Linked DNA regions of Homo sapiens. The protein of the gene in region 2 interacts with the protein of the main gene of each other region in a pairwise test. Each region holds a gene or a part of one and is shown on either strand. Other genes may lie near its edges.

What was found. The genes of interacting proteins can lie anywhere in the genome.
Region 1: the proteins of BPIFA1 (region 2) and TFG interact in binary tests that used the Homo sapiens proteins (3 or more experiments, as listed by UniProt).

What each region holds. Positions count from the first base shown.
Region 1 is NC_000003.12:100,715,237-100,720,420, reverse strand, and holds part of TFG (protein TFG), read right to left. Parts: intron 447-5,184; coding exon 363-446; intron 1-362. UniProt on the Homo sapiens protein: Plays a role in the normal dynamic function of the endoplasmic reticulum (ER) and its associated microtubules. Required for secretory cargo traffic from the endoplasmic reticulum to the Golgi apparatus.
Region 2 is NC_000020.11:33,240,806-33,244,895, forward strand, and holds the end of BPIFA1 (BPI fold-containing family A member 1 precursor), read left to right. Parts: intron 1-579; coding exon 580-664; intron 665-1,250; coding exon 1,251-1,314; intron 1,315-1,681; coding exon 1,682-1,722; 3' UTR 1,723-1,756; exon of another isoform or gene 1,757-1,864; intron 1,865-2,279; exon of another isoform or gene 2,280-2,301; 3' UTR 2,302-2,501; downstream 2,502-4,090.

The DNA of each region.
Region 1 (5,184 bases), on a different chromosome or scaffold from region 2:
CATGTTAAGCCCTGATAATAAGTAACAACATACTGTAATGTGAAGGAAGATAATTACAATTTAAAAATTCTAATACAGCTAAATTAAAACTATAATACTGCACCAGGGATACCTAAGTTATACCTGATTTCAAAAAAAACATACTTAACACTCTGTTCTTACTGAATTAAACTTCTATCATTTTCTTAAAAACATACACAGCCATAAGCTTCAAGTAATCTAAAACAACTACCTGAACACAAATAAATGTAATAATATTTGAATAAGTTATTGCTTACCTGAGTCTTTAAAAGGAAAAAAGCCAAACATCTTTAAAATACAATGAATAAAATAGTAAATTCATTAGAAAGTTTACTACTCACCAAATAATGTCAGTTTCAGTATCCTACTGCACTGAATTGCAAAGGAAAGGTCAGAACTATCAAAAATTGTTATAAGATCTCCATCTGGAATTTAAAAAAAAAAAAGGTTGTTTTTTAATTTTTTAAATTTTCAGATTTGTATAAGCAGTAAACTAGTAAAAATTAAAAATCCAAAATGTAGATTGTAGAACATAGTTGGACTCTCCCATAGAAACCTTAAACTTTAAAGGTCTAGCAAAAATGCATTTGTTCAAAAATATACTAAATCAATTTTGCTTATTACTCTTATGGCAAGGTATTTACACATATCCACATGAAAAAATACAGCTAAAGTGAATCCATTAAGTGCCTTAATATTTATTAGTCACTAGTAAGAGATTCATAGAGAGCAATATCATAAATTGTTGGTTTAGACTGAAATCTTTTCATTCCAAAAAATTTACATCTTTTACCAAGAAATAAAAAAGTTTCCCAAAGTTCAAATCTTAATCATAGGTAGAGTAAAACACTACTGTTGCAAAACTGCTTTAATGAATGGATAGACAGTAAATTCTTTCAGGTCACTGACCATTTTGATATTAAGATGAAAACAATCAACTCTCCCCAGAAAAATATTTATATATTCAAAACAGTGTGTATTTATGACCGTGAAATCCCCCAGATCTCAGGGATAAAGAATGCTATAATTGGCATACCAACTGTGTGTCTCAAAAGCTTTCAAAGGGCTAAGGGAAAAATACATTCTCTAAAGAAAGCAAGAACAGAAAAGCAGCCAGAGACAAGGAGTTCATCAGGGACCTCTGCAGGGTGTCTTCACAAACAGTTGGGTGGGGAGGAGTTCTGTCCTGGGGAGGCCACAAGACTACTTCTGGGATGCTCTGCTGCACCTACTTTAACACTAATTAGTTGGATTTATTTTGGGCAAAGATGACAAAACTGAGAATTTTATAACTGTTTTTAGCTCCTTATAGCCAGACCCACTTCCCATAACATACTTGTTTAATGTTCAATTTTCATAAACACATTTTTTAAAGAAAATAAAGTATGTATGTAAAAGAAGAAAACTTCCTGTTCTTTTTTTCTTTTCTGAATCCTACAACAGAAACAGAGTATCTCTGATGGCAGGAACTTTACCTAAGCCATCCCTCCACTCTACTAACAGAATCTAACGGACACAAATCAAAACAATCAAAAACTTTTTGGCCAAGTGCGGTGGCTCACACCTGTAATCCCAGCAGTTTGGGAGGCTGAGGTGGGCGGATCACCTGAGGTCAGGAGTTCGAGACCAGCCTGGCCAACATGGAGAAACTCCGTCTCTACTAAAAATACAAAAATCAGCCGAGTGTGGTGGTGTGTGCCTATAATTCCAGCTACTTGGGAGGCCGAGGCAGGAGAATCACTTGAACCTGGGATGTGGAGGCTGCAGTGAGCCAAGATCACCCCACTGTACTCCAGCCTAAACGACAAAGCAAGACTTTGTCTCAAAAAAAAAAAAAAAAAAAAAAAAAACCATGAAATACAAAGTTGTAACTAAATGTGGAAGACAAACTACAACGAGGACACCTCAAGCTAAGGGTCCATGAACTGTGACCAACGGACAAAATCCCTGTGTTGTTATAGGTCTGTGAATGAAAAATGGTTTTTACATTGTAAAAAAAAGATGAGACAGAGGCCTTATGTGACCCACAAAGCTACAATATTTATTCTCTCTGATCTATTAAAGAAAATGTTTGCTGACCTTTGCCCTAAACAGTAGTTAAGAGAAAGCCAGTCAATGAGGTCAGTTTGAGATAAAGGCAAAGCATCTTCAAGTGGGAAAAAAGGCAGTTAAAGGCCAGGCACACTGGCTCATGCCTGTAATCTCAGTACTTTGGCAGGCCAAGGCAGGAGGATCGCTTGAGCCCAGGAGTTCAGGACCAGCCTGGGCAACACAGTGAGACCCCCATTTTGATAAACATTAAGAATAAGAAGCTGAGTGCAGTGGCACATGCCTGCAGTCCCAGCTACACGGGAGGCTGAGTTGCAAGGACTGCTTGAGCCCAGGAGTTCAAGGCTTCAATGAGCCATGATCACACCACTGCGCTCCAGCTTGGGAGACAGAGCAAGACCCTGTCTCAAGACAAAAAAATAAAAAATAAAAAAAAGACAGTTAAGCAAGTACTAGCCAGAGCAATTATGCAAGAGAAAAAAATAAAAGGTATCCAAATTGGGAAGGAAGCAAACTGTCCCTGTTTGCAGATGACATAATCTTATATAAACAAAAACCTAAAAACTCTACCAAAACCCTTAGAACCAATAAATGAATTCAATAAAGCTGCCAGAAACAAAATAAGTACACAAAAATAAGTAGTGTTTCTATACACATACAATAAAAAATAAAAAATGCAATCCCATTAACCACAGCTACAAAAATTTTTTTAAATATCTAGGAAGCAGTTTAACCAAGAAGATGAAAAACCTCTACAAAAAAAAAAAAAAACACTGATGAAAGAAACCAAAGAGCATACATATGTAATGACATCCCATGCTTATATAAGAACAAATATTGTTAAAATGACAAAATTACTCAAAGCAATTTACAGATTCAATTCAATCCCTATCAAACTACCAATAAAATTATTCATAAAAATTTAAAAACAAACCATAAAATTTGTACAGAACTACATACAACCCCAGACAGTCAAAGCAATACTGAGCAAAGAACAAAGCTGAAGGTGTCACACTTACTGACCTCAAAATATACTACAAAGCTGTAATAAGCATGGACTGGCACAAAAACGGACCCACAGACCAACAGAACTGACATAAAAACAGACCCATTGACCAAGAGAACAAACACATAGATCAATAGAACACATAGAACAAAAGAACATAATCCATGTTATCTATAGCCAACTGACTTTTGACAAGACCACTCATTAGGAAAAGGATAACCTCTTTAATAGGTCGGGAAAAGATTTCATGAATAAGACCTCAAAAGTGCAGTCAATAAAAGCAAAAATAAATATGATTATCTCAAACTGGAAAACTTTTCTGCACAGCAAAGGAAACAATCAAGAGTGAAAAGAGAACTTACAGAATGGGAGGAAATACAACTACTCATCTGGCAGAGGATGAATATTCAGAATATAGAAGGAACTCAAACATCTCAACAGCTAAAAAACAATCAATCCGATTTTAAAATCGGCAAATGATCTGAACAGACATTTCTCAAAAAAAGACATAGAAATGGTCAATAAATATATGAAAAAATGCTCAAAATCACAAATCATCAGGGAAATGCACACATATCAGGAAAATGAAGACCACAACAAGGTTCACCCCAGTTAGGATGGTTATTATCAAAAAGATAAATAACAAATGCTGGCAAGAATGAAGAGAAAAGGGAACTCTTACACATTATTGGTAGGAATGTCAACAGTACAGCCACTAGGGAGAACAGTATGAAGGTTCCTCAAAAAACTATAAATCGAACTAACACACAATTCAGCGATGCCACTACTGAATATTTAACTAAAGGAAAGGAAACCAGTATATTGAAGAGAAATCTGCACTCACATTTTACTGCAGCACTATTCACAATAGTCAAGATATGGAATCAACCTAAGTGTCTAACAACAGATTAACTGATAAAGAAAATATGGTATATATACACAATGGAATACAATTCAGCCATAAAAAAGAATGAAGTCCTGTCATTCACAGCAACATGGATGGAACTGGAAGACATTAAGTTAAAAAGATACCACATGCTCTCTCTCATATGTGGAAGCTAAAAAAAGTTGATCTTATACAAGTAAAAAGCAGAACAGATGACAGTAGAGGCTGCAAAGGGTAGGGGAAAAGAGGGATAGGGAGAGATTTATTAAAAGACACAAAAGTACAACTAGATAGAAGTAGTTCCAGTGTTCTATAGCACTATAGGATGACTACAGTTAACAATAACATATTATATAATTTCAAATAGCTAGAAGGAGAATATTGAATGTTTCTAACCCAAAGAAATAAATATTTGAGGTGATGGATATGCGAATTACCCTGATCTAATCCCATTATATGTAATGAAACATTACTATGTACCCCATAAATATGTACAATTATTATTTGTCAATTAAAACAAAATTTAAAAAAAAAAGTACTCTTGGGACTTTGCTAAAAAAAAAAAAAAGTTAAAAATCTGAATTGTAGGCTGGGCATGGTGGCTTATGCCTTTGGGAGGCCGGGTTGGCAGTATTGCCTGGGGACAGGAGTTAAAGGTTATGATGAGCTATAATCATGCCACTGCACTGTAGCCTGGATGAGAGTGAGACCCTGTCTCAAAAAAAAAAAAAATTCACTGATCAAATTAAGACACACATTTCAAAGTCACAGAGGTGCAAATCAATGTATGATAAGCATAAGAAAACAGGAAAAAAGTACTATCCTTTATTGTTTCTTAACATGGGCAACTCTCAAAAATTTGTTTTGGGTATTCTTAGACTACACATCACAAAAACAAAGGAGAATTATACCTTTAGCTAGATGGTCAATTTAACTGATCACCAGTGATTTACACTTCTCCTCCACAGTATAAGTTGTGCTAAGTGGCTGCTCAGCCAGGGACTATACTTCCCAACCCATTTGCATCTTAGCAAAGCCATGTAACTGGGTACTGACCAATGTCATAAGGGCAGAAATGACATACAACACCATCAGGCCTAGTGAGTAAAATCTCCCATATGATTCTTCATACTCTGTCTTCACTCATCTGCTTGCCAATGTCAATGCCTATGGTGAGCTTATAAGCCATGTGTTGAAGGTAACAGCTTCTTTCAACCTGGAT
Region 2 (4,090 bases):
TGTGAACCTGGGTAGTGCTTCTCCAATTTAGTTCTAAGCTTACTTATCTGCAATATGGAACTGCACTGGAGTTATTGATAGAACCTACCAAGATAACAGGTGTGAAAGTGCTTTGTCCCAGTAAGGGGTAAAATAGACGTGGATCCTAACTAGGTTATTTATTTCAGTTACCTGTCACATGGGGAGACTGTGTCAAACCTATTACGCAAAAGTTGCCCACGTGGTTAACTTTTAATGAACACATACATTGGGCTTCACATGTGTCATCTCATTGGATCATAATGACAACTACATACTAAGTAGTATCCATTCATTTATGGACTCTGCAAAGCCTTATTGGCACCTGCTTTTTCTGAGAACCATGTGTTTATCCTACACATACCTGTGTGTTCACTGCTGTACACAAATGTAACTCCCTTTACATAAGACCCTTGCTGTTGGCCTGCACGTGGGTGTAGATAGACAAGGCTCGGCTTTAGTGACTGAGTGTTGAGACTGTGGGGTTCACAGTGGCCCCCTCTGGAGACTTCTCCACACCATCTCCAGGTCCCTGCATCACCCATGACTTTTCTCTTTCAGACTTGGCCCCCTCCCCATTCAAGGTCTTCTGGACAGCCTCACAGGGATCTTGAATAAAGTCCTGCCTGAGTTGGTTCAGGGCAACGTAAGTAGGCAAGGTGGGGATCCCCTGATCCTCAGGTTTTAGAGCTTCTTGCACTAAAACAAAGCCCTGAGCTAAGTGGGTCCGAGTCCCTCAATTTGATAAGTAACTTCCATTCATCAATCTATTTGTCCATTGATCCATCTGTCCATGTTTCTTCTTTACATCTTTCCAAATGCATTGATGAGTCTCTGCTCTAGGCCAGGCCCTGCTTGTCCACACTGAAGCTGAAATGGATTGGCCCCTGTTCTGAGAAATTGGAGAAGTTCCCTGTCCAGCCTTCTATGGCCACAGACAGTCTTTCAACCTATGCTTGGGTGTCTCCTATAACCAGGGCACTCCACTCCACTTAGAATCAGATGTGATGTCACAGGGTGAACACTGGGCTTGTTGTGTGATTTGGGGCCCTTCACAACATCCCTCATGCCTCCAGTTTCTCCTCAGGCATGTGTGACCATTGATCTGTGGGATTGCTTAGAATCACTTTCACACAGAAAAATGACAGGAAATTTCCCCAGAGAACCCCCACTAGGGATTCTGCTGCTCCAGGGTGCCACTCTGCCTAACTCTCCTCTCTGCCCCTGGCCAGGTGTGCCCTCTGGTCAATGAGGTTCTCAGAGGCTTGGACATCACCCTGGTGCATGACATTGTTAGTAAGTACCTGCTTTCAAGCCCTCTGTCCCTCTCTGCAGGAGCAGCAACTTCCCCCAAGGAGTTTTTTCCCTGCACACCCTAGGATACTAGGTCCCTCTGGCCTCAACTCTCTCTATTTTGGGCTTCATTTTCCCCCGAATAATCCAGATAATTTTGAGATAGACACCGTGTCTCCTGCCTCAGCCCTGACACTGAGGACAGCTGGGCTGGTTGGTAGAAGGAGGCCTGGCTTCCTCCAAGCATGCTGAACACAGTCGGATCTCCAGAGGCCTCCATTCCCTGGCCCCCCACCTTGAGGAATATGGACTCCTTCACGTTGAGATCATAACTGTCGTCTGTTTTTTTATTGCTTGTTTGTTTGTTTAGACATGCTGATCCACGGACTACAGTTTGTCATCAAGGTCTAAGCCTTCCAGGAAGGGGCTGGCCTCTGCTGAGCTGGTAAGTGCCCTTCCCCACACCCCAGGGTTTTGGGGGCTGGCTGTTCTTCTCCTGGTAGAAGGCAGACGGGAGCTTGGGACAATGACATCCAAAGAAAGAGACAAACATCTACAGAGGTACACACAGGGATGCACAGAGAAATCCACAGAAAAGCTGACAGAGGTGGAAGGATGCAGGCAGCACAGCAACACAGCTACCAAGAGAAACACACACACAAATGCCCAGACACATGGCCACTGATACAGATGCACACACTCTCACACCAGCACACTCACACACATGCACACATTGGTGGACTCACCACACACAGACACACACACTCTCACCCAGCACCCTCACACATATGCACACATCAGTGGACTCACCACACATAAGTACACGTGGATACACAGACACACTCACTCAAACACATGCTCACAGAGCCCTGACTCCAGGCCTGATGGCTTGCCCAGGGTCTCAGCCTCCTCCTGTCCCTCTGGGGCATGAGTTTGATGATGAGTCAATATCAGTAACGCTCACTGACCTTGAGTCTCCATCCTGATTAGGGTCTTCCCCCAACAGAACTATTTCTTGCTGCTCAATCCATTTCCTCTGGCCCAGCTTCCCAGTGCTCACAGATGGCTGGCCCATGTGCTGGAAGATGACACAGTTGCCTTCTCTCCGAGGAACCTGCCCCCTCTCCTTTCCCACCAGGCGTGTGTAACATCCCATGTGCCTCACCTAATAAAATGGCTCTTCTTCTGCATCAGGGGCCTTGTCATCCTTCACCATTACTTGAGGGCTCCTGGGTTGGAAACAGCCCTGGCCTGGGTGGTTGGGCCCATAGCATAGAGTTTGGCACTTACTTTGTAGATCTGAATAGTCTTGAGCAGGTCAGGGAGATGTTCAAGTGTGTGTGGATTTCAGAAGGCTTTCCCAGGTGTCCTTAGAAAGGGGGAATAAGGCATTCAGGGTAGATATAATACTCCAGGTACAGTTAATGACATACAAGTTTGCCGCACCACGAATGAAAATGGCAGATTTGTGTTAGGGAAATGCAAATTAGAACTACAATGAAGGCCAGGTGCCGTGACTCCCGTCTGTAATCCCAGCACTTTGGAAGGCCAAGACAGGCAGATCAGTTAAGGGCAGAAGTTCAAGACCAGCCTGACTGACATGGCAAAACCCTATCTCTACCAAAAATACAAAAATTAGCCAGGGGTGGTGGTGTGTGCCTGTGGTCCCAGCTACTCGAGAGGCTGAGGTGAGAGAATTGTTTAAGCCCAGGATGTGGAGGTTGCAGTGAGGCAAGATCATGCCACTGCATTCCAGTCTGGGTGACAAAGTGAGACCCTATCAAAAAAAAAATTAAATTTAATTTTTAGAAACACCCAGTAAAATGTCATCTCACACCAGTCAGAACAGCTATTATTAAAAGGTCAAAAAATAGCAGGTGCCAACGAGGTTGCAGAGAAAAGGAATGCTTATACTGCTGGTGGGAATGTAAATTAGCTCAGCCACTGTGGAAAGCAGTCAGGAGATTTTTTAAAGAACTTAAAACAGAACTACCATTCGACCTGGCAATCCCATTACTGGGTGTATACCCAAAGGAATATAAATCCTTCTACCAAAAAGACACACACACATTCATTGCAGCACCATTCACAATAGCAAAGACATAGAATCAACCTAGATGCCCATCAGTGATGGACTGGATAAAGAAAATATGGTACATATACACCATGGAATACTACACAGTTGTTAAAAAATGAGATCATGGCCTTTGCAGCAACATGGATGCAGCTGGAGGCAATTATCCTAAGTGAATCAATGAAGGAACAGAAAATCAAGTCTCTCGTGTTCTCACTTACAAGTGAGAGCTAAACATTGAGTACACATGGACACAAAGAAGGAAGTAATACACACCAGACCTATCTGAGGGTAGAAGGTGGGAGGAGAGTGGGGACTGAAAAACTACCTATGGGTACTATGCTGATTATCTGGATGACACAATTATCTGTACAACAAACAGTTTACCCAGGTAACATGTACCCCTTGAACCTAAAATAAAAGTTGGAAAGAAAAGAAGAAAATGGCAGATTTAAGAGATGTTCAGGAGGTAGATCTGGAAGGATGTGGACAAGGGCGTAGGTGAGGTGCGTGTCCAGTGTCAGGCTGAGGAGCCAAGGGTACCTGGGGATCTGGGAGGATGAACTGATTCCGACAGACAAAGTATGCCCTTAGCTGTGGCTACTCTGTGTGGAAATGCCTGGGACACCCGGAGGATCCATCCAGGAAGCTGATGGTACACAAGTCACCTACCGCCCATCTTTTGCTTCCTTGCATGCAGTCATA